Homo sapiens: one gene and its partners. The protein of the gene in region 1 interacts with the protein of each later gene in a pairwise test. Each region holds a gene or a part of one and is shown in the gene's direction. Other genes may lie near its edges.

Evidence for each region.
Region 2: the proteins of CDR2L (region 1) and DRC12 interact in binary tests that used the Homo sapiens proteins (3 or more experiments, as listed by UniProt).
Region 3: the proteins of CDR2L (region 1) and ELOA interact in binary tests that used the Homo sapiens proteins (3 or more experiments, as listed by UniProt).
Region 4: the proteins of CDR2L (region 1) and TCEANC interact in binary tests that used the Homo sapiens proteins (3 or more experiments, as listed by UniProt).
Region 5: the proteins of CDR2L (region 1) and TCP10L interact in binary tests that used the Homo sapiens proteins (3 or more experiments, as listed by UniProt).
Region 6: the proteins of CDR2L (region 1) and SPRY1 interact in binary tests that used the Homo sapiens proteins (3 or more experiments, as listed by UniProt).
Region 7: the proteins of CDR2L (region 1) and MESD interact in binary tests that used the Homo sapiens proteins (3 or more experiments, as listed by UniProt).

What each region holds. Positions count from the first base shown.
Region 1 is NC_000017.11:74,990,268-74,994,711, forward strand, and holds part of CDR2L (cerebellar degeneration-related protein 2-like), read left to right. Parts: intron 1-4,444.
Region 2 is NC_000011.10:119,189,213-119,193,244, reverse strand, and holds the end of DRC12 (dynein regulatory complex protein 12), read left to right. Parts: intron 1-1; coding exon 2-94; intron 95-2,404; coding exon 2,405-2,535; intron 2,536-2,603; exon of another isoform or gene 2,604-2,678; intron 2,679-2,792; coding exon 2,793-2,945; 3' UTR 2,946-2,991; downstream 2,992-4,032. Other genes in the region: NHERF4 (Na(+)/H(+) exchange regulatory cofactor NHE-RF4), read right to left, coding at 3,753-3,782. UniProt on the Homo sapiens protein: Component of the nexin-dynein regulatory complex (N-DRC), a key regulator of ciliary/flagellar motility which maintains the alignment and integrity of the distal axoneme and regulates microtubule sliding in motile axonemes.
Region 3 is NC_000001.11:23,745,851-23,750,294, forward strand, and holds part of ELOA (elongin-A), read left to right. Parts: intron 1-3,170; coding exon 3,171-3,227; intron 3,228-3,991; coding exon 3,992-4,098; intron 4,099-4,444. UniProt on the Homo sapiens protein: SIII, also known as elongin, is a general transcription elongation factor that increases the RNA polymerase II transcription elongation past template-encoded arresting sites.
Region 4 is NC_000023.11:13,655,897-13,660,340, forward strand, and holds part of TCEANC (transcription elongation factor A N-terminal and central domain-containing protein), read left to right. Parts: intron 1-3,755; 5' UTR 3,756-3,790; coding exon of another isoform or gene 3,791-3,872; intron 3,873-4,444.
Region 5 is NC_000021.9:32,575,034-32,579,477, reverse strand, and holds part of TCP10L (T-complex protein 10A homolog 1), read left to right. Parts: intron 1-646; coding exon 647-784; intron 785-2,554; coding exon 2,555-2,704; 3' UTR 2,705-4,444. Other genes in the region: CFAP298-TCP10L (uncharacterized protein LOC110091775), read left to right, coding at 647-784, 2,555-2,704. UniProt on the Homo sapiens protein: May be involved in transcriptional regulation. Has in vitro transcription inhibition activity. Acts as a tumor suppressor in hepatocellular carcinoma (HCC) cells.
Region 6 is NC_000004.12:123,399,565-123,402,738, forward strand, and holds part of SPRY1 (protein sprouty homolog 1), read left to right. Parts: exon of another isoform or gene 1-230; intron 231-1,972; 5' UTR 1,973-2,027; coding exon 2,028-2,987; 3' UTR 2,988-3,174. UniProt on the Homo sapiens protein: Inhibits fibroblast growth factor (FGF)-induced retinal lens fiber differentiation, probably by inhibiting FGF-mediated phosphorylation of ERK1/2. Inhibits TGFB-induced epithelial-to-mesenchymal transition in lens epithelial cells.
Region 7 is NC_000015.10:80,979,766-80,984,209, reverse strand, and holds part of MESD (LRP chaperone MESD precursor), read left to right. Parts: intron 1-2,027; coding exon 2,028-2,260; intron 2,261-4,444. UniProt on the Homo sapiens protein: Chaperone specifically assisting the folding of beta-propeller/EGF modules within the family of low-density lipoprotein receptors (LDLRs).

The sequences.
Region 1 (4,444 bases):
CCTGCTGGTCTGCAGCTGTTGGCCTGGCCTGGCAGCTCCAATGGTAGCCAAAGGCCAGGAACCAGGAGGGAAAGCAGAAATGAGACAGAATAAACTGGAGCTTCCTGCCAAAAGCTGGATGTCTGCTTACTGTGGGCCAGGTACTGTGCTGAGCCTGAGGACATAATCTCTGCCCTCAGAGGACTCCACGTTACATTAGAGAAGACAGAAATAGGACCAAACTCACAATGGCGTCAGAGTGAGGGGTTCTGCAGCTGTAGGCCCAGCAACGGGGACAGCAGAGACTTAGAAAGGTTTATGCCAAGGCCCTTTTGAGCTGGAGGCTCCCCAGGAGAGGGAGGGAAGAAGGCATTCCAGGGGGAAGCGATGCTTGTACCAAGTCATGGAGCGACATGAGAAGGCTGGAAAATAGGGAGGGAGGGGCTGAAGGAAGCATCAGACACGGGTTCTGTGGGGCATTCCCGTGGGCCCTGCCCGCCCTGTGCCCCAGGGGCCAGGCATGGAGAGCTGGATGGTGGGACGGAGCACGGGCCAAAGGCCAGCCATATTGGGTGTCAAAGGCCTGTTGCATCTCCCAACCCACAAATTCTCTTCCACCCAGCTGCTCCCTGGTTGCCTGTGAGTGGCCCAGAAATGGTTTTCTCAGCCAGCCACCTGGTCTTCCCTCCTGTCTGTTTCCTCCTGCCCAAAGGGCAGGCCCTGATTCCACTTTCCAGAAGCTTGACTGTAGAGATCCTGTTTGGCTTTGATGCTCTGTCCTGGTGGAAAGCAGCCGTGGGACAAGTGAGGTCCTAGATTCTCGCTGTGTTCCCTCTGCCCACTGCCACGAGCATTTATAAAAATAGAAAAAGCCAGCTGGGCACAGCAGCTCACACCTGTAATCCCAGCACTTTGGGAGGCCAAGGCGGGCGGATCACCTGAGGTCGGGAGTTCGAGACTAGCCTGACCAACATGGAGAAACCCCGTCTCTACTAAAAATACAAAATTAGCCAGGCGTGGTGGCACATGCCTGTAATCCCAGCTACTCAGGAGGCTGAGCCAGGAGAATCTCTTGAACCCAGGAGGCAGAGGTTGCAGTGAGCTGAGATAGCTAGCGCCATTGCACTCCAGCCTGGGCAACAAGAGCAAACTCTGTCTTTAAAAAAAAAAAAAAAAAAAGCCTAGAAAGAGCCGGGCACGGTGGCTCACGCCTGTAATCCCAGCACTTTGGGAGGCCGAGGCGGATGGATCACAACATCAGGAGATCGAAACCATCCTGGCTAACACAGTGAAACCCCGTCTCTACTAAAAATACAAAAAATTAGCCGGGCGCGGTGGCGGGCGCCTGTAGTCCCAGCTACTCGGGAGGCTGATGCAGGAGAATGGTGTGAACCCGGGAGGCAGAGCTTGCAGTGAGCCAAGATCGCGCCACTGCACTCCAGCCTGGGCGACAGAGTGAGACTCTGTCTCAAAAAAAGAAAAAAAGAAAGAAAAAGCCATTAATTATTAAGCACTGGCACTCCCTCTTTCGGCCCACATTCCTCCCCTACCTTGGACCAGGCGTGGCAGGCCCTGTGCGTTCCTCTTTCCAGGCTGAGAGGCAGCTGCTGAGTCACAGATTTGAAGTCCTTGGTACCCGTGCTGTCCCCGCCTGCCTAGCTGACCTTGAGTCCTCAGCCTCAGGAGAGCTCTGACCTGGCAACGGGAGGGAGGTCCTGCCTCCACCCTGGTTACCCCAAAGGTGACCTGACCCTGATTCTGTGGACCCAGAGTGGCTGACAGTCGTGCCCTGGAGCTGAGAACAGGACCTCACAGCCCTGCCAGGTGGTACTTGTGTCCACAGCCTGGAGCCCACACCCCTACCTTTGTCCTCCCTGAAAATGTCCCCTCTCCCTTTGCTGAGTCTCTGCTCTGGAATCTGTGGTGCCCGAGCCAGTGAGGGACAGTGGGATTTCTAAGTTTCTTTTCAAAGACAGGCCCTGGGTTCCCCAGACATTCCTCCTCAGGCCTCTGGGGCATTGCTTCATGTAAAACCACTAAAACCTCCTGAAGGAGACCCCAGAAAACCCTGGGGTCCAGGCAGGGGAGGTGCCAACCCAGACTTAATGTTGTTTTTTTTTTTTCTTTTGACCTGCACAGTTCAAACCCATAGCCCAGACTTAGTACCTTCCCTCAGCTTGGTCCGGTGTGTCCCATTCATCCAGCTGTGACAGGTTGTTACTCCACTTTCACTTCCTGTCTAGCCAGCTCCCCCATTCTCCCGTTCCCAGGCCTCTCTCCTCTGAGCCTGGAGCCATCACCCACCCTCTGGTAGCTGGTGTCTTCTCCCTAGTACTTGGCTCCACTCAGTTCCCTGCTCTGCAACTTCTAGACTATTCCCTGATCCCTCCTGGCAGCTTTGACCAGCTTAGCTTGCGCTGTGATCCAGTTTCCCTAAAATGATCTGAGACCTGCCTCTCTGCCCCCAAACAGCTTCTATTGTGTTTCTCTTTCTACCTGTCCCTGAATCACTAGGTGGCCCAAGTCGATTCACTGCCTTCAAAGGGCAACCTTTGATGTCTCTGGTTTATAGGGTGGTATACCACCCTGGCCTGCCAGCATTAGAAATCTACACACAGCCCAGACACTAACCTGGAAGTGGGGGGTATGATGTTGCACTGCACTTGGCCTTTCTTCACTCACCTCTGATGCAGTGGCTTTGCACTCTAGTTAAGCTGCAGGGGCTCCATGAAGGCCACTTACTTGGAGCATGTCCTCCGACACCCACGGCAGGAGGTAGAATCAGTAGCAATGGCCTCTTTGCAGACCATGTAACAGTTTCCAAGGGGGAAAACATTTAGGAGAGTAGCCCTCTGATCTCTTTCATGTATATCTGAACTGCTGGATACTGTTCAGGATGAGCTAAATTTGAGTCCCACTATGGAAAACAGGAAGATAGCATGGCTGTCTCATCACAAACTGAAGGTGATCTTGCCCGGCTCCTGAGTCCTGAGTTACTGCCATGCGCACAATATAGTACAGGGCTGTAGTTCAATCTTTTTTTTTTTTCAAGACAGAGTCTTGGTCCATCGCCCAGGCTGGAGTTCAGTGGCACAATCTTGGCTCACTGCAACCTCCGCCTCCCAGGTTCAGGCAATTCTCCTGCCTCAGCCTTCTGAGTAGCTGAGATTACAGGTAAGCACCAGCACGCCCAGCTAATTAATTTTTTTGTAGAGACAGGGGTCTCACTATGTTGCCCAGTGCAATGATCTTTACATCAAACTTTACAATTTGTAGATACCTCCAGACTTTTGCCCAACTGACAGGTCATAAATTCATACAGCATATATCCGCATTCCCTTACTAGGTTTATGTTATGTAACTAGTTTTTTCTTGGCATCCTCATCAGAAGGTTAATTGCTCAAGGCTAAAAGTTCTTACCTATGATTTACATGATTTGGTTTCTTTGTTGTTGTTGTTGTTTTCAATGGCTGAGGAAGATGTTTGGGAAAGCTGCCTTTGTTTTTTCAGGCTAAGTTACTGCAGCCTTGCTCTAGGATAGCAGCTTTGCACTCCTTCTCCAGATGACACAGGGCCCTCCTTTGGCTAAAACCCAGCCCTGGAGGCTCCACTTTGGCTGTTTCAAAACCTCACCTCTGTGCACAGGATCAGACTCCGGATTTGTTCCTGTGGGGCAGTTCAGCCTTTATGTCCAGGCCCAGTGGCTGGTCTGGCCCCTCTGCCTCTCACAAGGCAATGTCAGTTCTGCCCCCAGCTTGGCTGAAGGCCCAAGGCTCTGCCCTCAGCTGCCCACCAAGAGTCACTGCTTGCCTGGGCTCATCCCAAAGGAAAACTTCCACCCCAGGTCTAGGTTTCTTTTCAAAGACATCCCTTGGGCTCCCCAGCTATTATTTCTCAGGCCTCTGTCCAATGCATAGCAAGGGCTCAGCCGAAACAACCGTATCTAGGAAACTTTCTGTCCGGGAGTATAGAGCCTATCCGTCCTCCAGAGACCCTAGAACTATCACTATGTCTAAAAAGGGAAAGCAGTAGAGAACTGGATCCCTGAACCACATCATATTGGCCCCAGTAGAGTTGCCTTTATGCATCTTGATCTGATTTACATCGTCAGCCTAGATTGAGAGCTGTTTTAAGAAGCAGCCTCATAAAATGAAACAGACCAGTGCTTTCCTGGACAGTCTTTTGACAGAATGCCTCAAGAAGGCCTACCTTTTGTCCCAGGAATTGTATTTCTAGGAATTCTGTATCTAGGCCTACCTTTTGTTCCAGGTACCTAGGCTTACCCTTTGTTCAAGGAATTCTGTGTCCTAAGGAATTGGGCGGTGATTTGCACAAAACGTTTTGTACAACAAAGTTAATTAGTTTCATTCTTTTTTTTTCAGAGATAGGGTCTTGCTTTGTCTCACTGGAATGCAGTGTTGCAATCATAGATGACTCTAATCTGAAACTCCTGGACTCAAGCAGT
Region 2 (4,032 bases), on another chromosome or scaffold:
GAGATGAGTCGCCAGTGCCATGCCCTGCAGGAGGATATGCAAACCCGCAGCAAGCAGCTGGAGGAAGAAGTCAAAGGCCTTCGGGGGCAGCTAGGTAGGTTTCCCCACCCTCCAAGCCCCTTCTCTCCAAGAGTTGCAGCAAGGGCCAGCATGAAGGGGTAGACTTCAAAGTCTCTGCTCCAGAAAGCTGCCGTCTGGGCTCTTGGATCACTTTCCCCACTTTCGCTGACCCTCCACCACTGAGGACTGCAGCAGAGGGTTCGGGATACCAAAAATCTCTGCTGTAAGTAAAGAAGAGGCTCCAGGCGCGGTGGCTCAGGCCTGTAATCCCAGCACTTTGGGAGGCCAAGGCGGGCGGATCACCTGAGGTCAGGAGTCCAGGAACAGCCTGGCCAAATGGCAAAACCCCGTCTCTACTAAAAATATAAAAATTAGCCGGATGTGGTGGCGCACACCTGTAATCCCAGCTACTCGGGAGGCTGAAGCAGGAGAATCGCTTGAACCCAGGAGGCAGAGGTTGCAGTGAGCCGAGATCACGCCATTGCACTCCAGCCTGGGCAACAGAGCAAGACTCTGTCTCAAAAAAATAAATAAAAATAAAAAAGAAGATGTAGGCCTCACACCCCATTTCCTCCTCTCAAGTCCAGCCCTAACTCCCCACCACTGCCATGTCTCTTGTGAGCAAAACATATTCCCTTTTAGTTTAGCTGATTTCTACAATGAAACTAAGGGGAAATGTTTGACTTATTTACTTCTGTATCTTCAAGACCTAGCATCTGGTAGATCCTAAATAACTGTTCACCAAATAAATGAATAAACACTCCTAATAAGCAAAAATATTTTTAAAAACCAGGAAGCCTTTGCTTCTCTTGTCTCTTGCTTACAAAATAATGTTGAAATATCTCAGCATGACACATGAGCTCTTTCACAATTTTGGTCTCAAAGTTTTCATACCTTAAAAATGCCTTCAACCGGGTGCGGTGGCTCACCCCTGTAATCCCAGCACTTTGGGAGGCCAAGGCAAGAGAATTGCTTGAGGCCAGGAGTTTGAGACCAGCCTGGCCAGTATGGTGAAATGCCATCTCTACTAAAATTACAAAAATTAGCTGAGCATGGTGGCGTGTGCCTGTAATCTCAGCTACTTGGGAGGCTGAGTCAGGAGAATCACTTGAACCCAGGAGGCGGAGGCTGCAGTGAGCCGAGATCGCACCACTGCACTCCAGCCTCGGCAACAGAGTAAGATTCCAACTAAAAAAAAAAAAAAAAAGGCCTTCGGTTTAGCTATAGATGGCCAGGAGCTGCTTATCTGCCATTCAGACTCTGGGTTCCTTTCCTAATCTTTGCTTTACCTCAAATTCCAAGTCAATCAATGACTCAATTGTTTTTGTTTTTGCTGTTGTTGTTTTGGGGATTTTTTTGTTTTTTGTTTTTTGTTTTGAGACGGAGTTTCACTCTGGTCGCTCATTCTGGAGTGCAATGGCAAATCTCGGCTCACTGCAACCTCCACCTCCTACGTTCAAGCAATTCTCCTGCCTCAGTCTCCCGAGTAGCTGGGATTACAGGTGTGCGCCACCATGCCTGGCTAATTTTTGTATTTTTAGTAGAGATGGAGATTCACCTATGTTGGCCGGGCTCGTTTCGGACTCCTGACCTCAGGTAATCCGCCCTCCTCGGCCTCCCAAAGTGCTAGGATTACAGGCGTGAGCCACCGCACCCGGCCAATGAATCAATGTTTACTGAGCACCTCCTGTATACTAGCTAGGTGCTTTGTCATCCATTTATCATGTTTAAAGGTCACAGCATGCCCCTGAGGGATGTGTCATTCTCTCTTTACAGATGAAGACACCAGCCAGCCGCGGTGGCTCACACTTGTAATCCCACCACTTTGGGAGGCCGAGGCGGGCGGATCACAAGGTTAAGAGATAGGGACCATCCTGGCCAACATGGTGAAACCCCATCTCTACTAAAAATTCGAAGATTAGCTGGGCATGGTGGCATGTGCCTGTAATCCCAGCTACTCGGGAGGCTGAGGCAGGAGAATTGCTTGAACCCAGGAGGTGGCAGTTGCAGTGAGCTGAGATCGCGCCACTGCACTCCAGCCTGGCGACAGAGTGAGACTCCATCTAAAAAAAAAAAAAAAGATGAAGACACCAAGGCTCAGAAAGAGACATGCATGTGGTCACCTAGGTAGTAATCCGACTTTGGAGCCTTCTATCTCAAGCCCGCCACTCTCTGCTATATACCTCAGTGGAGCTTCAGCTTTTACAGGGACTGCGGGAAATTTGGTGATGCTGGGGGAGTCTGGAACGAGCCCATTTGAGGTCTCCTTTCCAGATACCTTTGGAGAGACTGGTCAAGGATAGAGTGTCACCATCCTGCTCTCTTTCATCCTGCCTGCCCCCAGAGGCATGCCAAAGGGAGGCTGCAGCTGCCCGGGAAGAGGCTGAACAAGCTCTCGGAGAGCGGGACCAGGCCCTGGCTCAGCTTCGGGCCCACATGGCAGACATGGAGGCGAAGTATGAGGAAATCTTACACGTAAGCACCACCCCCTGGATCCCAGCCATCCCAGTACCCAGGACTCCCCCATGCCCACAAACCCCAGCTCGTATGATGACTGACAACCCAGGGTTAAGGAGAAGGAGCGTCTCCAAGGGAGCCCTGCTCTATCCTGAGGGCAGACAGAGGGGATACGACCATGTCTACTGGGCAAGGAAAGCTTATGAACCAACCTGGGGCAGCACTCACTCCTTCCCTCTCTCTCTTTCTGGGGTCTGAAATATTGATGTCTGCAGGACAGTCTGGACAGGCTCTTGGCCAAGCTGAGAGCCATCAAGCAGCAGTGGGATGGGGCAGCACTGAGACTTCACGCCAGGCACAAGGAGCAGCAACGCCAGTTTGGACTCACCCCCCCTGGATCTTTGAGGCCACCAGCCCCTAGTCTCTAGTGTTCTCTGAGGCCCCAGCAATAAAGTGTCTTGATGTAGAACTCAATAGAGCTGTGGGCTCTGGCCGTTTGGCAGAGAGAAGTGGATCTTATTTTTATTTTTATTTTTATTTAGTTTTCTTCTTTTTTTGTTTTTGTTGTTGTTTATTTTTAGGAGTGGCTGTCATACAGACATCTCAGTTCTGGGTTGACCCATTATCCCTGAGATTCAGTGATTGATAGGAAATAAATTTGACCAGGTCTCAACCTCTCTCCTGCAGGAGCCGCATCCCACCCCTTGAGCCTGAGGCCCTTTTGGTCCCTTCACACCACTGCCCCTTACCCCCACCAACACAAACACAGGCAGTCAGATTTATGGCGAATGGCCATTTCTATAACAAATGCAACGGTGACCAAGCACCACCCTCCCGCAATGCTAAGGCACCCACAGAGGGCAGGCATAGCTGGTCTCCAAATTTTTGCATTACACTCAAGGGTCCTGGAGTCATATCTAGAAAAGGTCCAGATGGCTTCAATCCTAGCCAGACCCACAGCCACACCTTCATCCTTGGGACACAGCTCTCTAAAACTCCCATATGACATCCTCTGGAGCCTCAGACTCCTTCAGGGACCTGTCTGAGGCCTCCAACCACACCCTCTGCTGGCAGGTGGGCCTGCAGGAAGGGAGGGAGCACCTGGGCCAGCCTGTGATCGGTGGTGTCTGAGTCCCTCTGGTCTGGCTTAGAGAGAGCATCCTGCCTTCACCACCTCAGGCTGGAGAGTGAAGACACGGTAGCCCCTGAGTATGTCTGTACCAAGCAGGGGTGCTCTACAGTAGATCCGAGGCCAGAGCCCAGTCCTATACAGAGAGAGGAGGTAGAAGGTCATTCCAGGTGGGACCCAGAAGAGTTCCTTTTTCTTGCCCCGCCCTGCACTGGAATGCCCAGAAATGGGGTTTATTTCACGAGTCCTTCTGTCCCCACCTACCACGACCTGAAGTCCCAACCTGCATACCCCACACGGCTTCACCTTGTACCTCGCCCACTCTGCCCTTCTTTCTCACTCCTCCCTGCCCTCTGTAGCTACTCACAGTCCCATCTGTTTCTTCT
Region 3 (4,444 bases), on another chromosome or scaffold:
TGGATTTTTTGGTACTAGACATTGCTGTAACTCTGTTTTCACTTTTTCATCTGTTATCTTGGCTCACTTAAGGGAGAAGGTATCAGCAGCCTAGGACCACTTGGTTTCTGTTTTTATGTTTCATAGTTCATGGCTGATAAAAATTACCTGTCCTTAGGCCGAGTGCAGTGCCTCACACCTGTAATCCCAGCACTTTGGGAGGCCGAGGTGAGTAGATCACCTGAGATCAGGAGTTCGAGACCAGCCTGGCCAACATGGTGAAACCCCTTCTCTACTAAAAGTACGAAAATTAGCCAGGTGTGGTGGCAGGCGCCTGTAATCCCAGCTGCTCGGGAGGCTGAGGCAGGAGAACACTCGAACCCGGGAGGCAGAGGTTGCAGCGAGCTGAGATCGCGCCATTGCACTCCAGCCTGGGCAACAAGAGCGAAACTCCGTCTCAAAAAAAAAAAAACAAAAAAAACACACACACACAGTTGGCCGGGCGCAGTGGCTCACGCTTGTAATCACAGCACTTTGGGAGGCCAAGAGGGGCGGATCATCTGAGGTCAAGAGTTCGAGACCAGCCTGGCCAACATGATGAAACCCCATCTCTACTAAAAATAAAAAAATTAGTTGGTCATGGTGGTGGTGCCTGTAATCCCAGCTACTCGGGAGGCTGAGACAGGAGAATCTCTTGAACCCAGGAGGCGGAGGTTGCAGTGAGCCGAGATGGCACCATTGCACTCCAGCCTGGACAACAAGAGCAAAACTCCATCTCCAAAAAAAAAAAAAAAAAAAAAAAGGATCCTCGTCCTGTGTTACATTTTCACTGTGAAAGCTACCAAGAACATTTTGATGGCAGGTGACATTAAAAATATTTTTTGCTTTTTTGGGTTGAAGGATTGTACAGGGGACAACTGAGATGCCTCAACATGTACCTTGCAAATGTTTGATATTTCTCAGTTGCCTGTTACCAGTTCTTACAAGCTCTATAGTTGGTATCTTGTTTGATAACAGCAAGTTTCGATCCACCTGAGGATGCCCAATGTGCCTTTGCCTTGTTATTGCTTTGTTCTTTCTTGAAATTTACTGAAAATAGAGGGGTTGTGAAGTCCTTTTTTCTCTTGTGTTAGACTAAATGAGTCTGAAAATCTTGAGGGTTTTAGTTTTGTCTGCTTTTAAATCACCCCTAATAACCCAAAGTAAAGCAGAAAGACAGGATTTGTTCTTCCAGTTAGTGCTAGGCTTTGAGATAAACACACCCACAGTGACTTCCAGCCTCATCCTTATATGTTGGCTTTGTAGAGGTCCTGGGACACCTTTGTTCCCTTGGTGACCTCCTTTACTATGTGGGTTCTGAACTGTCTAATGACATCACAGGAGGAGTTTTTCTGCTTTCTTGCAAGTATGCTAAGAAGTATATGTGCTGCCGCTCTATTTTCATTTCCTAAGGACAGTGTTCTGATGTTGGATGCTTCTCCTGGCTTTACTTAACTGTAGTAGACACATTTGACTTTCCAGCTTGTTAAGCAAGTTACCTAACCTGATTGGGTTCAGTTGCAATATCTGTCAAATGGGGAGAATAACATCCACTTTATAGAGTTGGTTAGTGGGAATGAAATGAGGTAACGTGTAAGAGCTTAGTGTAGTAGCTGACACACAATAGATGGTATGTGAATATTCCCAACCTACCCCTTCCAAGGAATGGCATTATGAGAGAACCACTTGTTTTTGACCTTTTCAGTGATTTAAAATTTTCCTTTAAGTGAAGGAATTGGCATTAGTCTTTGCACCCATAGCTTGGGTGGCAAGAAACACAAAATTTTTCCTGAGTTGGATGATGGTGGTGATAGGATTTGAAGTGGGGGATAATTTTCACTCATCTATGAAGGTGAGACTCCCTAGATATGCCACTTGGCCTCTTACTTGATCTCAAGATTATCACTTGTGATCCAATTGCTCTGTCTGGTGACCATGTTAAGTAATGATTGAAGTAGAATGACCAGAAAAACAGACTTGTTACTCCACCTAATAGCAATATGGCATACCAATTATAGTCTGGGCCACACATGGTAAAAGCAGATCTTGTTATATAATATTTAAATGCAAAGGTAACCACAGTTATCTATTTTAAACTACTTGTATTTTGAAGCACTCCTTGTATGGTAAGTATGTTTAGATACACGTAGACATTTCCTAGAGAAAGGTTTGGCCAGTCATAACTTTTGTTAGAGCAAGTAGGAATTGGCTGAGGAATATCTGGTTGAAGATCAAGGGCAGAACGCTGAAAGCTGTCAGTCGATGAATGAAATGATAAGTATTTAGTGAGCTTTCATAGTGTTCTAGACACTATGACTAAGGACTGCACATGGTTTGTCTCTGAATCCTCATAGTTTGTGAAGTAGAGACAGGACCAAGTTCCTATTTTGCAGATGAAGTAACTGAAGTTTGGGGAGGTTTTTGACTTATTCAAGATCACTCATCGAGTGACAAAGCCAGATTGTCAAGCCTGTCTCTGACTCCAGAACTCCATCTTAACAGCTCTGCTGTACTGATTTTGACCTAGTTTTAGGAACTATAGGAAGGAAATGTGATCAAACCCAGATCACTTTTCTAATCTACCCAGGCATTTTGTGTCCACCGTTAACATCCAAGCTCTGATTCTGGCAACTTGAAATTACTCTTGGCTTTACACTTATGTAGAAGAAAACAATTCTGTTAAACACTGTGGCCCTTCTGGAAACATGATGGTCTTTTCCTGTAGAGGCCTTTTCTTCCTTTTACTTCCTCTGTGCCAGGTCCATGGGTAATTCCCCTAAAATTGGTACCTTTCTCATAAATTCTATCAAAACTAGGGCAAAAATGATAGTTGTTGATGGCTTTTATCAGAGTTGGTAAGTTTTGATTCTCTTCTCTACATCTTATTTCCCCTTGGTGTAGCACAGTGGTTGAAAGCAGGGAATCTAAAGCCACAGACCTGAGTGAATCTTGCCCCACTTGCATCTTGGGACAAGAAACATAACTTTTATGAGCCTATTTTCATACTTGTAAAATAGGGATATTACTTACTACTGTAAATAGGCATAATACTTATACTCATTACTGTAAATGGTTAGCACTAAGCACTTAATAATCAGATATTCTTGTTAAAGTGAATTTGACTATTGAAATTAATGTTTTCTTCTCTGCAGCTATTGAAATATTTGAAGAAACTCTCCACCCTGCCTATTACAGTAGACATTCTTGCGGTAAGAACTGTGTGACTTTAAATATTATATAATGATATCCCATTCCCTTCTCACTGGAGAGTGTGTAGAATAAGGTTACAAGTATGGGCTTTGGAAGTGAAAGAAACCAGACACAAAAGGCCATATATTGTCTGATTCCATTTATATGAAATGTCCAGAATAGGCAAATCCATAGACAGAAAGTAGATTAGTGGTTGCCAGGGGCTAGGAGAATTGGGAGGAACAGGATTTCTTTTTAGGGTAATGTAAATGTTCTGGAATTAGATGGTTATAATGGTTATATAATATTGTGAATGTTCTGGAAACCACTGAATTATGTACTTTAGTTAAAGTGGTGAATATTGTTAAATGACTTTATTTCAAAATTAGAATTAAAAGAACATTGACTTTGGCATCAATTAGTCCCAGATTCAAATCTGAGTTCTATGACTTTAGGCTGTTCCTATGTAAAATGGGTCTGATTCCTGCTTCACAGGGTTATTGTAAAGACTGATTCAGAACTGTATGCAAAGCTCTTATCTTAGTGCCTAACACCTGCCCTAATCACTCTTGTTATTAAAGTTCTGAACTTGGTACGCTTTGCTACTGTGTGTCATTAGAGATTTGGGGCATAGACACAAAGTAATTTAGTGTTAAGATTTGCAGGGTATGTTGTAGGAAGGAAGTATTGCTTGTTGAGTTTCTCAAAGTAGAAAGCCTTATTTCTTTAGAAAAACGTTAGCCTAGTTCCAGACCCCTCTAACAATTACTTTGTCAAATTTTAGGAGACTGGGGTTGGGAAAACAGTAAATAGCTTGCGAAAACACGAGCATGTTGGAAGCTTTGCCAGGGACCTAGTGGCCCAGTGGAAGAAGCTGGTTCCTGTGGAACGGTAAGAACATTTCTCTTTAGGTTTGTTCAATTTCATGGTTAAATTTACAGATAGAAAAGGTTTTCTTTATTATTTCTCTTTTGCCTTCTGAAATTGTTTTGCCTCAATTATAAAAAATAATCCATGATCATTGTAGAATATTAGAAAATATTAAAAATAGAAATCAAAATTTCCTATTTCTATCACGCAAAGACAAACGTTATGAACATTTTGGTACGTTTCTTTTTTTTTTTTTTTTTTTTTTTGAGACAGAGTCTCGCTCTGTTGCCCAGGCTGGAGTGCAGTGGCGTGATCTCGGCTCACTGCAAGCTCCGCCTCCCAGGTTCACGCCATTCTCCTGCCTCAG
Region 4 (4,444 bases), on another chromosome or scaffold:
GGAGGCCTGCTAGGGCTCTTTTTGCCACTGGCCAAGGAGCTTTGGCTCCATCATGAAAGCAAGGGGAAACCTCTCAAGGGCTTTCAGCAGGAAAATGAGGGAGTATCTTTCTGAGATCTGTACTAGAGGATGATCCCTCTAACAAAGTGCCAGACTCACAGTTGGGCCTTGTGAGTGCCAGAAGTACAGTGAAGGCAGTAAAGAAGCAAATTGTAGCTGTCCAGATGATGGCGAGCCCAGATAGGGTTTGGTGCCATCCTGCGTGTGTTTCCCCTAGCAGCCAGTGTCTGTCCATGTTGAAATTCCACATGTGTTGTAACTGGCCAGTTTCTTGTCAGTATTACTCCCACTAGGCTATCAGCTCCTTCAAGGCAGAGACTGTCTCTTTAGGCTCAGCATCTAGCACATACTCAATCCCTAATATATATTTATTGAATGAACTATGTAGAACTAAGCTGGACATATGCCTTACCTTGTCTTTTTATGGCAATTGTCAGAATTTTGTATTTCAATGGCTTCCACATTATACCCTCCTAGGGCAATAAATCCTTTATATCCACATGATGGTCCCACAGAGGACTAGAAAGTTTGACTGGATTTAAATCCTGTTAAAAATGTGGAAGGGAATGGAAAACAATACAGTGGGTCCTCAAAAAATTAAAAATAGAATTACCATATGATCCAGCAATTCCATTTTTGAGTATATACTCTGAAGAATTGAAAGCAGGGTCTCAAAGAGAGATTGGTATACCAGTGCTCACAGCAGTGTTATTCACAATGGCCAAAAGCCAGAAGCAACTCAAGTATCCGTTGACATTTGAATGGATAAACAAAATGTGTTATGTATAGACAATGGAATATTATTCATTCTTAAAAAGGAAGAAAGTTCTGACACATGCTACAACATGGATGAACCTTGAGGACATTATGCTAAGTGAAATAAGCCAGTCACAAAAAGAGAAATACTGTATGATTCCACTCACATGAAGTACCTAGAGTAGTCTCATCCATAGAGACAGAAAGTCGAGTGGTGATTGCCAGGGGCTGGAGGGAGGGAAGAATGAGGAGTTGTTTAATGGGTGCAGAGTTTTCAGTTTGGGAGGATGAAAAGAGTGCTGGACATAAGCATCTTGATGGCAGGGACTGTGTCTTTTCAAAAATCCATGGGCTCTGTTTTATAGCACTTGATATTAAATAATCACCACCGAACATACACAGGCTAAGAACACTGAAGTGTTTAGAGAGAGAATTCACACAATCTTCCCAGACACCATATGACAAGTGACATAAAACATATTTACCTTTTAGTAATTCTACTTCTGTGAATTCACTTTAAGGAAACGAGAGATGTGGAGACCGCATATGTACGCATTTTCTTCAAACTTAGGAGAAACTGGAAGGCCCCAAATAGGAGAATGATTAAAAACTATCGCAAACTCCTAGGATGATCCAATAACATAACCATTTAAAAATCGTGTTTTTAGAGAATATTTAATGATGTGGAAAAATAGTCCTAAAGCTAAGTGAAAAAAAATCAAGATGCAAAACTATATGAAAGATTAAACAGTTATATAATCCAGCAGATTCAAGATAAATGAAAACATATGTCCATGCAAAAACTTGTACACAGGCCGGGTGTGGTGGCACATGCCTGTAATCCCAGCACTTTGGGAGGCCAAGGCAGGTGGATCACCTGAGGTCAGGAGTTCGAGACCAGGCTGGCCAACATGATGAAACCCTGTCTCTACTAAAAATACAAAAAGTAGCCGGGCGTGGTGGCACATGCCTGTAATCCTAGCTACTCAGGAGTCTGAGGCACGAGAATCACTTGAACCCAGGAGGTGTAGATTGCAGTGAGCCAAGATTGCACCACTGCACTCCAGCATGGGTGACAGAGCGAGACTCCATCTCAAAAAAAAAAAAAAAAAAAACACACACACACTTGTACACAAATGTTCATAGCAGTATTATTCATAATAGCCAAAAATGGGAAATAATCAAAATGTCCATCAACTGATGAATGGATAAATAAAATGTGGTTTATCCACACAACATAATATTATTCTGCCATGAAAAGGAATGAAGTACTGAAAATGCTACAACATGGATGAACCTTGAAAACGTTATGCTGAATAGAAGAAGCCAGATACAAAAGACCACATACTGTATGATTTTATTCACATGAAATGTCCAGACAGCAAATCTATACAGACAGAAAAAAGATTAGTTGTTGACTTGGTGGGGTGGGACAGAAGGGCAGTGGAGTGAAGAAAGAGGAGTGGCTGCTAAAGTGCAGGGATTTTCTTGGGGGGTGGTGGCACAGATAAATCTTCTAAAGTTGATTTATTTGTGGTGATGGGTTACACAACTGTGAATATACTAAAAGCCACTGAATTATACACTTTAGGGGAATTGTATGGTATGTGAATTACATCTGAATAAAGGTGTTATTTAAAAATAGAATCTGGTCCAAATTTTACTTAAGAATTACATATGGAAAGACTGAAGAGATACGCAAAATTTTAAAGAGGGGCATTTTCTGAATGGTGAGATTTTAGGTAATTTTCATTTGTTCTTTTACTCTTTTCTGTATTTTCTGTGATGAGCATGCATTGTTTTCATAATCAGAAAAGTTATTGGTCTAATATAATTTCATGATAAACTGTATACATTTAAGATACTGAAAAATGGTATGGTGAGAAATGAATCAATCACCTTCTACCCACCTTCCCTCTGAAATGTGAATATCGTCTCTTAAGAGTGGCTATATCACCTGTGGCTTTGCATTCAGATAAGTATTCATAATTGCCTCAGAAATCGATTACTGCATCTCAAACAGGTGCATCTCCCCTCAAACTTTATCCCCAAATATGAAGAGTTAAGTACCCTTACATAACCAAGAGTCTGAGTCCTACATTTTTAACCACCAGAGGGAGCTGGAATGTAGAAAACCTGGGGCAGTCAGTTTTGTTTTGTTTTAAAGTTAGTTTCACAAAGGGCCATCAATTCAGGATCTTATGTAATTTTCCTAATTATTGTGAACCAGCACTTAAAAGATAATTCTTTTTTGCCTTTTTAAAATTCCACTTTTAAAGACTGCATACAGTAAAAGAGGTCTTCCTAAGAATCAAACTCTTAATAAACAACAGGCAAGACAGCACAGAAAAATAAAAAATATTCACACCCTCTATTAGCGAACATTTCTCTCAGAATTGTCTGCTTCAGATCTTGAAGTCACGCAGTTGTGTCACAGTGATAAAGTTTCAAGTTATTCAATATACTTGAGCCCTCCCCGACTCGTTGAAAAGTTTCCTAACAAAGAAGAAACATTCAATGTGCCTGCATTCTATATGCATTACTATTGAAATCAGGATGGAGGTTTGCTAGGCATTGAGAAAGATGGTGAATAAGAGATGGGCCTACAGCGCCCAAAAGGAAGTTAAGCAATATTTGACTCAGGTCAGAATTTCTCAACTGAAGGTCTGAGTTTCAAGGTAATTCTTAAAGGGAATTGTAATTATAGCTTCGGGGTTTCAGTGGGGTGAAAGCAGCAATTTGTCTTACCAGCAAAATGAGTAAATCTATAGAAGTTAATGTATTTATGTATAAACAACCAAAAAGCACTTTGCTCTTCATTTTATATGTTCTTTTATTGACCTTTTCTTCATATTTCTTTAAAAAATTTTAATTGTGATAAAATATACAAAACATAAAATTTACTGTGTTAAGCCCTTTTTTTTTTTTTTTTTTGACAGAGTCTCGCTCTGTCGCCAGGTTGGAGTGCAGTGGCATGATCTCGGCTCACCGCAAACTCTGCCTCCCGGGTTCAAGCAATTCTCCTGCCTCGGCCTTCCGAGTAGCTGGGACTACAGGTATGCGCCACTACATCCAGCTAACTTTTTGTATTTTTGGTGGAGACAAGGTTTCACCATGTTGGCCAGGATAGACTCGATCTCTTGACCTCATGATCCACCCACCTTGGCCTCCCAAAGTGCTGGGATTGCAGGTGTGAGCCACCACGCCCAGCCTGTCTTAAGCCTTTTTAAGTATACAGTTCAGTAGTGTTATGTACATTCTCGTTCCAGAGGGGAGGTGGGTAGAAGGTGATTGATTCATTGCTCATACCATTTTTCAGTAGGTATATCTTAAGTGCATATAGTTTATCATGAAATTGCGTTAGACCAATAACTTTTCTGATTATGAAAGCAATACATGCTCATCACAGAAAATACAGAAGAGGAAAATAACAAATGAAAATTACCTAAAATCTTACCATTCAGAAAATGCCCCTCTTTAAAATTTTGTGTATCTCTTTTCAGTCTTTTCACATGTAATTCTTAAATAAAATTTGGATCAAATTCTATTTTTAAATAACACCTTTATTCAGATGTAATTCACGCACCATACAGTTCACCTAAAGTGTACAATTCAGTGTTTTTTAGTA
Region 5 (4,444 bases), on another chromosome or scaffold:
AGGGACTGAATATCTAAAAGGCTGAGACTCGAGCACCCACAGAACGCGGGCATGGCTGTGTGGGTGAGCCACTCTGGATCTGATATTAAGGGTTCGTTCATAGCAACCCTCTCCCCTTCTCATTCCCTTCTCCTCCTCAGAGGGCAGAACGGTGAATAATTTAGCATTCCAGACCTAATATACCTCATCCCACCTGAAGGATCACCCTGTTCCAGGTCAGTCTGCTGATAACAGGGAAAGTTGGGAATTTGCATTTTGGATCTTAGACAAGTTGTAGAGACAACACTAGAAGTAGTATCACATTTTCTTCCTCCGTTAACACACTCCCGGTTGAAGACACAGGAGCCTAAAGGAAGATATGTTGGGGATTGTTTGTTCTGTAGCCTTTGGGATCCTGTGATCATTTTGAAACAAGGAACCACAATAAGAAACACAAAGCAAACATCGGCTCCACAAAGGTTCCTTCACAAACGCTTGGTGAGGGTTTCTGTTCTTATCAACATATTAGGGGGAAAACCCAGTCCAAGTCCCCCTACCTTGTACCCTATTTTTTTCTAGGACATTCCAATTATTCTTCATTGTATTAAAATTTGAATTTATTTTACCTTCGAAAATGTGAAGAATTTCCCTGCATTTTGTCTTTTAGGCATTGGAACCTGCTTTTGGAAAAATTTCACCTCTGTCAGCTGATGAAGAGACAATACCCAAATACGCTGGCCACAAGAATCAGAGTGCCACTCTCCTGGGACAAAGATCGTCATCTAACAATTCAGCTCCTCCAAAGGTGACCCTTTGTGCTTATCATCTGTAAAGAGAAGCAGAGGTTCTGTACCCAAACACACACATCCCATCAGCTCCTCACCACACAATTTCACCTCCCTGGGTGAGCATGGTGCTCCCTGGAGTCCTGTGTTCTTCCAAGGACACGGGTACATGCCTTTCAAACAAGATCCTAACCCTTAGCACTTCTTGCTGTGGAGCAGATTCCAAGTCCTCCCGGCTGCTTCCCTCTGAGTACACTCACAGCAGCAAGCGTCTGGCTGGGGCCGAGGGGACTTGGGGGCTTTGTTTCCGTGGGTGCAGGCTGCGGAGGTGATGTGTGTGGCACTGTCTCCACCCGTGAGTCTGAGGGCTCGCAGCCTCCCGTGCTCCCTGCTTCTGCACTGCGGTCTTGCACCTGCTGCTTGTCGGCGTGGACTCCTCTGAACAGGGGTGGCGCTGTTAGCTTGGGAGCCACAGTACAGGATGCTATTTTGTCTCTTGTTGGGAATAGGCCCCCAGATCTGGCCATAAACTGGCCCCAAAACTGGCCACAAACAAAATCTCTGCAGCACTGTGACATGTTCGTGATGGCCATGATGCCCACGCTGAAGGTTGTGGGTTTACCAGAATGATGGCAAGGAACACCTGGCCCACCCAGGGTGGAAAACCGCTTAAAGGCGTTCTTAAACCACAAACAGTAGCATGAGCGATCTGTGCCTTAAGGACATGTTTCTGCTGTGGATATCTAGCCAGAGCCCATCCCTTTGTTTTGGCCCATCCCTTTGTTTCCCATAAGGAATACTTTTAGTTAATCTATAATCTATAGAAACAATTTATCACTGGCTTGCTGTCAATAAATATGTGGGTAAATCTCTGTTCACGGCTCTCAGCTCTGAAGGCTGTGAGTGCCCTGATTTCCCACTCCACATGCTATACTTCCGTGCGTATGTCTTTAATTCCTCTAGCACTGCTGGGTTAGGGTCTTCCTGACCGAGCTGGTCTCGGCAGTCTCTATCACATTTTTCTTTGTTAAAATTAGCTCCTCTTTAGAACATTCTCCCAGCCAGTGTGTCTCTTCCTGTCCCAGCTTTGTGTCACCCTCATACTCAGGAAGCAAATCTCGTGAGTCCACAGCCAGCAACTGATACTGGGTTGATGTGGATGGAGAAGGCGCCCCCAACTCCTGAAGATGATTTATCCCCTCGCATTCTTTCCCAAAGCAACTGCTGAGCAGATAACACTTTATTCCCTGAAGGAAGATCAGAAATCTACTCCAAGCATTTGTCACAAGTAGGAAAAGAGCCTTTTCAGATCCTATGAGTACAAAACATCGTAAGTCCCAGGGTGGACTGCACAGGCCCAGCCTCCTGTGAGACGCGGACTTCTCTCATGCTCCATCATTGACCTGAGTTAATCACAGGCATGCGGGGCAATGTACGAGTAAATAGATAACTGAATGGGTGGCTTATCCACGCCTTGAAACCATCAATTGTTAAATAGTGCAAAATGTAGAAAATTATTTTTATTATGCATTTTTGAATTGAGTTTCAAGCACTTTATTTCACTGTTGACTTTACAATATCAGCCATGTATTGGAATCCCAAATTTCACAAGAGCGTGGGCTGTAAAATGGGGAATGAGAGACACTAAGTGTGGATACCTCATGTGTCCTTCTGTAGGAAGGGGGAGTAGAATCATCTACATTCTGTGATAGCTGGTATGATGTGTTGCTTAACATTTAAAAATAATATAATTGTTACTAATGCAAAAATATTCCCACATTTGTTTTCAGCCAATGAGTTTAAAGATAGAAAGAATTAGCTCGTGGAAAACACCACCACAGGAAAATAGAGATAAAAATCTTTCCAGGAGACGTCAAGACAGAAGAGCAACACCTACTGGAAGGCCAACTCCCTGTGCAGAGAGACGGGGGGGTGTCTGAAGATGGAAAGGTGGCCTCGGACACCTGTGTCACTCTACACTGGCCCCTTGGAAAATTCAGATTCAGATAAAGTTCCACTTAGGTCTAATAAAAGTACTCAATTTGTTATTCAAAATAGACCTAGTAATTTATTAAACTAATTATGTTTCTATAGATAAAAACTTGAAGTTCTTCAGACATGTCTCTAATGCTATAAAAGCAAACAACTTGGATTGGGTTTTATAAATCAGTTGCTTTCCTGAGCTCTGTAGTTGGTATATTTCTGCAGAGTCTTTAAAAAAATTAACCCACCTTGTAGTATGGAGTGTCGGGCTGTTGGGTGAGCCCTGGGGTCTTGCTGGAAATCGAGGATGGCTGAAGATGGCTTTGTGCTCCCAGCCTTTGGGCTCAAGGCATTGCCCGCTCCAGGGACCTTGTGACAAGGCGGGCCTGTGACTGTCATTGCCCCAGGCTATGCATCCATCTTCCCGAAGTCTGCAAAACTTGAGTGGCAGAAAATCACCAGTGCAGGCTTCCCAGGCCGCCATGCTGCAGGAGCAGATGGCAGCAGCCGGAGGAGCTGGTGAGCAGAGTTGGGGACTCCTGTTTCTATGCTCCCCGTGAAATGCGGGGCTTTCTCGTGGATACGCGTGAGCAGAACATCTTACTATGGCAAGGACATGTCCTTCCTGGAGCTGCCTAATTTGTGGCCACTTTTTGTCTGATTCCCTCGTTGGGTCCTCACCTGTGAGACTTGCCAACACCCCCAGCCCTCCACCCCACACACAGCCCACATGCCGGTCTCCAGGGGCCGTGACTGGAGATTCCGAATCCTAGCGGTCACTTCCCTCTGAGCACACTCCCAGCAGAAGGCGTGTGGCTGGGGCTAGATGCACTTGGGTGCTTTGTTCCCCTTTCTCCATTTGCCAGCCCATGGCATTGCTGCCACCCTGATGGAGCGCCCTCTCATCTGGCACCTTCCTGGCCTCTTTCCCAGGCCCCAGTTCTGTCCATGCAGCTGTGGGTGCTTCCTGCATTGCGGGTCTCACGGGGAGGAGACGAGAGTGCCCCTGGTTGAGTCAGGAAAGAATTCTATCTTCACGTCGCTGCCAGCAAATGACCACAGCAGCTTCACGACCTCTGCAGGAACCTATCTTGGTAAAGAAACGGGGCCTATGTGGTGGCCGAGCCTCAGGTGTGGCCGAGCTTCAGGTGTGGCCCTTATGCACAGCACAGCCCAAGCCTGTGGGCACCACTCGCCCTGGGCTGCCTGGCACCTGGACTCCTTCCCATCCTTGGCCGAGGTCTGCGTGGCCCTTCAGGGCCGAATCTGACACTGTCTTCCTCCTGAGTCTGCCCCCCGGGCTTCCTGCCCACCCCCAGGCTGTTTCATGGCCTCTGCAGGGAGCTTCGTAGAGGTGAGGCTGGTGCCATCTGTCTGCTTCAGACCACCTCAGGCTCTGCGTGCCCTCACAGTCCCCTCTGCACTTCTCTGTGGGGCAGGGAAGCCCTTCCCATCAGGTCTGCTCCAGCCTGGCTACCTTGTTCCTGCTGTCCCCTCCCCTTCAGGCCCCCGGACAAGACTTCAGTGTACTTGCTGGTGCCGGGCAGAATGGGGGACCTTGCCTCTCACACACACCTGCTAGTATCTCCGCAACCTCCAGGCATCATCTCAGCTGACAGTGACGCCATCCTGGGGAAGCTCCCCTGACTCCTGGCTCTCCTGGAAGCCTGTGGTGCTCCTTCACAATGGCCCGTGGC
Region 6 (3,174 bases), on another chromosome or scaffold:
TGGCCGCCCCTGCGCTGGCTTCTTTCTCCTCGGCCCTCGGTGAACCCAGCTTTTCCTTTAAAGCATAGACAAATCCTTGCTTAGGGTCAGCCAGACCGTGGGCTTGCTTTGGGCTCCCGCGTGGACGCTGAAGGCTCTTCATGATTTCTCAGAAACCTTGGTGGGCCACCCAAAAAGTGTGTTGGAAATCCACGGTGATCCTTAATATGGTGATGGGATTGTCCGAAAAGGTATTCTACTTCCATTCGCGTTTTCTTGGGGAAGGCAGTGTGCCGAGCGCGTGTGAGCGTGTTTGGGGCTTGTCCAAGACTGTCACTGCTTGAAAATGGGCTTTTCTTCGGATCGGAGGTGGCGAATTTTCTTTGCTTTTAATTTTTTTGTCTGGCAACTTTATTTCCCAGCCAGTATGAAGTTTGTTACAACTATCATTGGAAATGCAAATTGAAGTTGTGCCTGGTGTTATGGGTTACACTATTCAAATCCTCTGCGGTTTTGTGAATCTGGCTTAGTACTTTTAGCTACCTTTTGCTTTGAAAGCACTGAGTTAAGAAGTTCTTGAAGAAGAGGAATAATTGTGCAGGAGTCAGGATTAGATGTTGAGGACTCCGAGACTAAATCCCCGCAGGTTATGAATGTGTTACTCCTCATGCGCAAAGAAGGTAGAATAAAGTAGAAACTCGAGAGAGCTGAGTTGTGAAAACGAGGGGGAGCTCCAAGAAGTTAACATGTAAGACATAGTTTAGAGACATTAGTTTAGGAAATATAGGAAATGGACTTCTTTCTGCGTTGTTCCTTAAACCATGTTTTTTGCCTCAGGTTGGTAGTGGAGAATGGACATTTCTTTTTCTTTTCATTCTTGAATTGGGTCGACTCTGTAGACTTTAGAAGGAATTTGTGTGAAAAATACTCTAGTTCACCACTGAAAGCAGAAACTTTCATCTTTGGCAGTTTGTGAAGAACACATAAATTAGAAATAACTTACTATTAGTATGGAAACACAACTGCTTATTTTTATCTGGATATTAGTGTGCTGATTTTGTTACAAGAAGAACGTTGAATCAGAATTGGCAGTGCGTTTGAAAATCAAGGTCTGTCATGTAAATACAGATTTTTAAATCAGAGGAAATACAGATAATTAAAACTGCCAGGATTTCCCTACACTGCGTTAAAGGCCTCACACTTATTTGTGCATAAAACTTACTTTGTTTTGTGAGTGAGCCCTTCAGCTTAAAAAAAATCCTCTCAGGATTTCAAATATGAGTACTGTTATATATCATTCACTGGACTATACATTGAGTCTTGTGTGTGTGTGTGTTTGTAGCTCCAAAACACCAAGAATCGTTGTGTACCTGATACATTTATTTTTGCATCTCATAGATGAATAATAAGGTAGTTTTAAAATTCTGATTTATATAGAAAATTACCTATTATTTTGCGATTTCATTTTAAGAGTCTCAATTTTTTAATGCCTTAATTTTTTTCATCATTAATCTAATGCATATAACAGCACACAACAAAAAGGCTGTAGCACCAAAGCCATTCTCAATTTCTTAAAAGGTAGACATTTTCCTTTATGGAAGCCACCTATGAACTGATAACTGAGCTTTCTTTAGATGAGAGTTATTCTCCTGCTTATACTCAGTATTCCCTGCGAAGGCATGCTCCATTTTAATTATTAGATTCACAAACAGGAAGGCATTACTTTCTCCTGATTCTGCTTCTTAAAAGTTGGAAAAACTTATAATGTTCATGGCATGGGGTCTCTTGTTTATAGTCTTCCTCTATGATGTGGTCCCCAGCCTCTCCTAGAATTGGACTCTGGCCAGGACCCCAGCATCATTGTAATCCACTGATGAAGGAGGTCATTACTAGGCGGTTTAGGCAATTTGTGATTTGACAGGATTCCCCCCCCCCAAAAAAAATGCTTCCTGTCATTTATTTTCTGTTTTTTTCATCTTTGATTTCGTTTTAGGATTTCAGATGCATGCCAGGTTTCCACTGATTGCCAGAACTCGAGATCACTACACATGGATCCCCAAAATCAACATGGCAGTGGCAGTTCGTTAGTTGTGATCCAGCAGCCTTCTTTGGATAGCCGTCAGAGATTAGACTATGAGAGAGAGATTCAGCCTACTGCTATTTTGTCCTTAGACCAGATCAAGGCCATAAGAGGCAGCAATGAATACACAGAAGGGCCTTCGGTGGTGAAAAGACCTGCTCCTCGGACAGCACCAAGACAAGAAAAGCATGAAAGGACTCATGAAATCATACCAATTAATGTGAATAATAACTACGAGCACAGACACACAAGCCACCTGGGACATGCAGTACTCCCAAGTAATGCCAGGGGCCCCATTTTGAGCAGATCAACCAGCACTGGAAGTGCAGCCAGCTCTGGGAGCAACAGCAGTGCCTCTTCTGAACAGGGACTGTTAGGAAGGTCACCACCAACCAGACCAGTCCCTGGTCATAGGTCTGAAAGGGCAATCCGGACCCAGCCCAAGCAACTGATTGTGGATGACTTGAAGGGTTCCTTGAAAGAGGACCTGACACAGCACAAGTTCATTTGTGAACAGTGTGGGAAGTGCAAGTGTGGAGAATGCACTGCTCCCAGGACCCTACCATCCTGTTTGGCCTGTAACCGGCAGTGCCTTTGCTCTGCTGAGAGCATGGTGGAATATGGAACCTGCATGTGCTTAGTCAAGGGCATCTTCTACCACTGCTCCAATGACGACGAAGGGGATTCCTATTCAGATAATCCTTGCTCCTGTTCACAATCACACTGCTGCTCTAGATACCTGTGTATGGGAGCCATGTCTTTATTTTTACCTTGCTTACTCTGTTATCCTCCTGCTAAAGGATGCCTGAAGCTGTGCAGGAGGTGTTATGACTGGATCCATCGCCCAGGGTGCAGATGTAAGAACTCCAACACTGTCTATTGTAAGCTGGAGAGCTGCCCCTCCCGGGGTCAGGGTAAACCATCATGATTTTTGGAGGTGGGTTGTACCTCCTGAACTTTTAGCTTTCAAGTTGTGGCTGTTTTTTGTTTTTGTTTTTGTTTTTGTTTTCTTTAGAATTTTTCCCTGTTTCCCACCTTCTCTTCCCCTGTTGCCAAGGTCTAACTCATGGATTTTTCTCTTTCCTCATGGATGATCTTCAGCAAGAGTGGACTGG
Region 7 (4,444 bases), on another chromosome or scaffold:
TATATGCTATTTATTAGGCATGGTGGCTAATGCCTGTAATCCCAGCACTTTGGGAGGCCGAGGTGGGCAGATCACGAGGTCAGGAGATCGAGACCATCCTGGGCAACATGGCAAAACCCCGTCTCTACTAAAAATACAAAAATTAGCTGGATGTGGTGGTGCGTGCCTATAATCCCAGCTACTCGGGAGGCTGAGGCAGGAGAATCGCCTGAACCCAGGAGGCAGAGGTTGCAGTGAGCCGAGATCGTGCCACTGCACTCCAGCCTGGTGACAGAGTGAGACTCCATCTCAAAAAAAAAAAAAAAAAAAAAAAAAGTTACTGTTTTCTATTAGTAATTTATTCATTTGTTTTGATCATTATGGGTTCAACATCTCATTTTGTTTGAGGGGTTGTAAGTCATACTATTATTTATTTTGATGTTGAGATTATTTCAACTTTGGCCCATGAGAGCTGCTTCAAGTTGGCTTCCATGGCATTTTGACATGTTCACGATTCTTTGAGCACTTTACTACTTTGTGATGCGGGATTATTCTAGGCTCATCTTCTGTCTCTCTTGCTATAAGCCTGTTCTCCAAGGAACCCACGCTCTTTTAAATATTTTTATCCATTAATCTGTTTACTCATCTGTTAATCTATGAAAAACCATGAGTTTCTCCTGATACCTTCAATTCCAGCCTAATACCACAGGGCTCATTCTTCCCCCTTTCATGTTTGTAACTTACTTCCCAGAAGTTAAGAACCTGGCTCTCATTACCCTCAATATGTTTACTCCTTTTCTCAATCCTAGAGGTCACATAAGATAGTCTCAGAATTGCTAGCCCATACCACTACAGAAAACAAACCTGCTAACTGGAATTGAATATTTTTGTACAATGCCTATTAAGTGAAATGGGTATACATGGAGTGCAGATTTTAAGTATACAGTGCAAAGAGGGAGTATTTCTTTTCTTTTTTTTTTTTTCTTTTAAGACAGGGTCTCGTTCTGTCTCCCAGGCTGGAATGCAGTGGCATAATTATAGCTTACTGCAGCCCTGATCTCCTGGGCTCAAGTGATCCTCGTGTCTCAGCCTCCTGAGTAGCTAGGACTACAGGCACCTGCCGCCACACCTGACTAATTTTTAAATTTTTTTTAAGAGATGGGATCTCACTATGTTGCCCAGGCTGATCTCAAATTCCTGGGCTCAAGCAATTCTCCCACCTCAGCCTACTGAGTAGCTGGGACTACAGGTGTGCCTCACTGTAGCTGGGACTACAGGTGTGCATTGCCATACCTGGCTACTTTTAAATTTTTTTTTAGAGACAGTCTTACTGTGTTGCCTAGGCTGATGTCGAACTCCTGGCCTCAAGTGATCGTTTTACCTCAGCCTCCCAAAGTGCTGGGATTACAAGGTAAGCCACAGTGCCTGGCCTGCAATAAATTTTGATAAATGGATATATCTGTGTAATCTACACCCCTGTCAAAATGTAGAACATTTTCATCACCCCAGAAAAGTTCTCTTGTGTCCATTCTCAGTTAATCCTCCCTTGTCCCCCCTTCTACAGGCAACACTGTTCTAATTTCTGTTACCCTAGATTAGTTTTGCTCATTCTTGAATTTTAAATAAACGGAATTGCATAGTAAATCTTATTTTGTATCTGGCTTCTGTCACTTAACATTTTTGGGATTTGTTAGATGTATCAGTATTTGTTCTCTGTTGCTGTGAAGTATTTCATTGTGTGACCATACCAGAATGTGGCCATTTTTACAGCCTACCATGTTGGGTAGATTGTATGAGAGTTTAAAAGCTCTAGAAACCCATCACATGGGGGCGCTCTGTGATTGGTAACCTGGGTGTGGGTAGTATGTGCTGCCTGAAACTTAGACTATCTTGAAAGTTAAGAAGAGGAAGAAAACCCCTGGTTTTCCTTTTTATGTTGTAATTTAAGTCATATACATGCACCTGACATCATGCAGAAGTTTTTGCCTGTGCCAGTTGAAAAGCAAGATTCTGATGATAGGTTTGATGCTTTTCCCCTAATCTGATAGAAAGATGATGACATTGAAGAAGGAGATCTTCCAGAGCACAAGAGACCTTCAGCACCTGTCGACTTCTCAAAGATAGACCCAAGCAAGCCTGAAAGCATATTGAAAATGACGAAAAAAGGGAAGACTCTCATGATGTTTGTCACTGTATCAGGAAGCCCTACTGAGAAGGAGACAGAGGAAATTACGAGCCTCTGGCAGGGCAGCCTTTTCAATGCCAACTATGACGTCCAGAGGTAAAGCAGCAACAACCAGCTGAGAGACTCATAGGCTGTGCTCGGTCTTTTCTTTATTATTATTATTAATTATGATGATGATGATGATTTTTTTGAGACAGAGTTTTGCTCTTGTTGCCTAGGCTGGAGTGCAGCGGCGTGATCTCGGCTCACTGCAACCTCCGCCTCCCTGGTTCAAGCGATTCTCCTGCCTCAGCCTCCCGAGTAGCTGGAACTACAGGCGCCCGCCACCATGCCTGGCTAATTTTGTATTTTTAGTAGAGACAGGGTTTCACCATGTTGGCCAGGCTGGTCTTGAATTTCTGACTTCAGGTGATGCACCCGCCTCAGCCTCCCTAAGTGCTGGGATTACAGGCGTGAGCCACCACACCTGGCCCTGTGCTGGGGCTTTTCCTGAGGCTCTTAACAGGGTGTCCTTTCTGGCCGTATTTCCCAAGGGCCTCTGCCTTTCCTTTCTAGGTTTTCTTTTAAAATTATTTATCTATCTAGTTTGTTTTTTTTTTTTTTTTTTTTGAGACGGAGTCTCACTGTGTTGCCCAGGCTGGAGTGCAGTGGCGCAGTCTCAGCTCACTGCAAGCTCCGCCTTCCCGGTTCACGCCATTCTCCTGCCTCAGCCTCCCGAGTAGCTGGGACTACAGGCACCTGCCACCACGCCCAGCTAATTTTTTGTATTTTTAATAGAGACGGGGTTTCACCGTGTTAGCCAGGATGGTCTCAATCTCCTGACCTCGTGATCTGCCTGCCTCAGCCTCCCAAAGTGCTAGGATTACAGGTGTGAGCCACTGCACTCAGCCTATCTAGATTTTTTTAATGTAAAGAAGAGCGTTGCCGGGTGCAGTGACTCACTTCTGTAATCCCAGCACTTTGGGAGGCTGAGGTGGGCGGATCACGAAGTCAGGAGATCAAGATCATCCTGGCCAACGTGGGGAAACCCTGTCTCTACTAAAAATACAGAAAAATTAGCGGGGCATGGTGATGCACGCCTGTAATCCCAGCTACTCCAGAGGCTGAGGCAGGAGAATCGCTTGAACCTGGGAGGCAGAGGTTGCAGTGAGCCGAGATTGCGTCACTGCACTCCAGCCTGGCGGCAGAGCAAGACTCCATCTCGGGGAAGAAAAAAAAAAAAAAAGGGCATTTATTGTTGGTAAAAGCAGTTAAGTTTTTGTTTTTATTTTTTGAAGAGGCGAGGTCTCACTATGTTGCCCAGGCTGATCTTGAACTGCTGGCCTCAAGTGATCCTTGCACCTCAACCTCCCAAAGTGCTAGGATTACTGTCACTGGCAACCATGCCTAGTGTGTGTTTTTTTTTAATATCTCAGTTGATCCTAAAGTTTTATTTATCTTTGGATCTTTAGCTTTTATTTCATCTGAACAGAAGGGTGTATAGCTTAGTTTAGACTCTTTGAGGGACAAAGTTAATAGTTTGACAGCTTCAGCTAGAAGTTTCTGCTCAGTGGAAAGTGCTTTGTGTGTAGCTATGTTCACACATAGAGCTTGGACCATGCTGTTAACCGATAACTAATTTAGTATGAAGAGGCTCAGTTTTCACACTTGAGTATGGTCCTGAGGTACAATTTTAAGAAATCTGCTTCTTTTTCCTCAAAAACAGTTCTGAAATTTGGGGTCTGCAAATATTCTGGTTTAGGAAATATAAAAGCAATGACAAGAAATGGGAGGAGTACTTAGAGAGTGTCCGGCCAGCAAAATATTTTCAATTAGCTTAAATAGACACCTAGACAGAACAAATAAATGTCTTGGTGATGTCTGCTCCAGAAGGCCCACTGGTCTCTGTGGAGTGGTGGGAGCATTAGAAACTGAAGGGGGAACGCGTGGTGTAGTCCCTAAGGAACAGAAGAATCTTGCCCGCTGGCCACACTAGGGCTCCACCCAGGCCTCATTCTTTCCGCTTTGTTCCTTGGGACCTTTCGAGTGTGGACGAGCTGGGCAGCTTGCTGCTAAGCTCAAGGGCTAGGATTTTTGTCCAACAACCAAGTGTCCTCTTGAGTCCTTCATAGCCTCTTATCATGACCCACTCTAAGCCATTGGTTTTCCACCTTTATCAGCAGAAGTCTTTTGTCCCATAAAAGTGTAACTGGACACTCTAGAATATAAAACAGATACAGATCAGATCGAAGCTGCCTCTTTACCTCCCCAGCAGCAGCCCCTGAGCCACCTCTGCAGTGT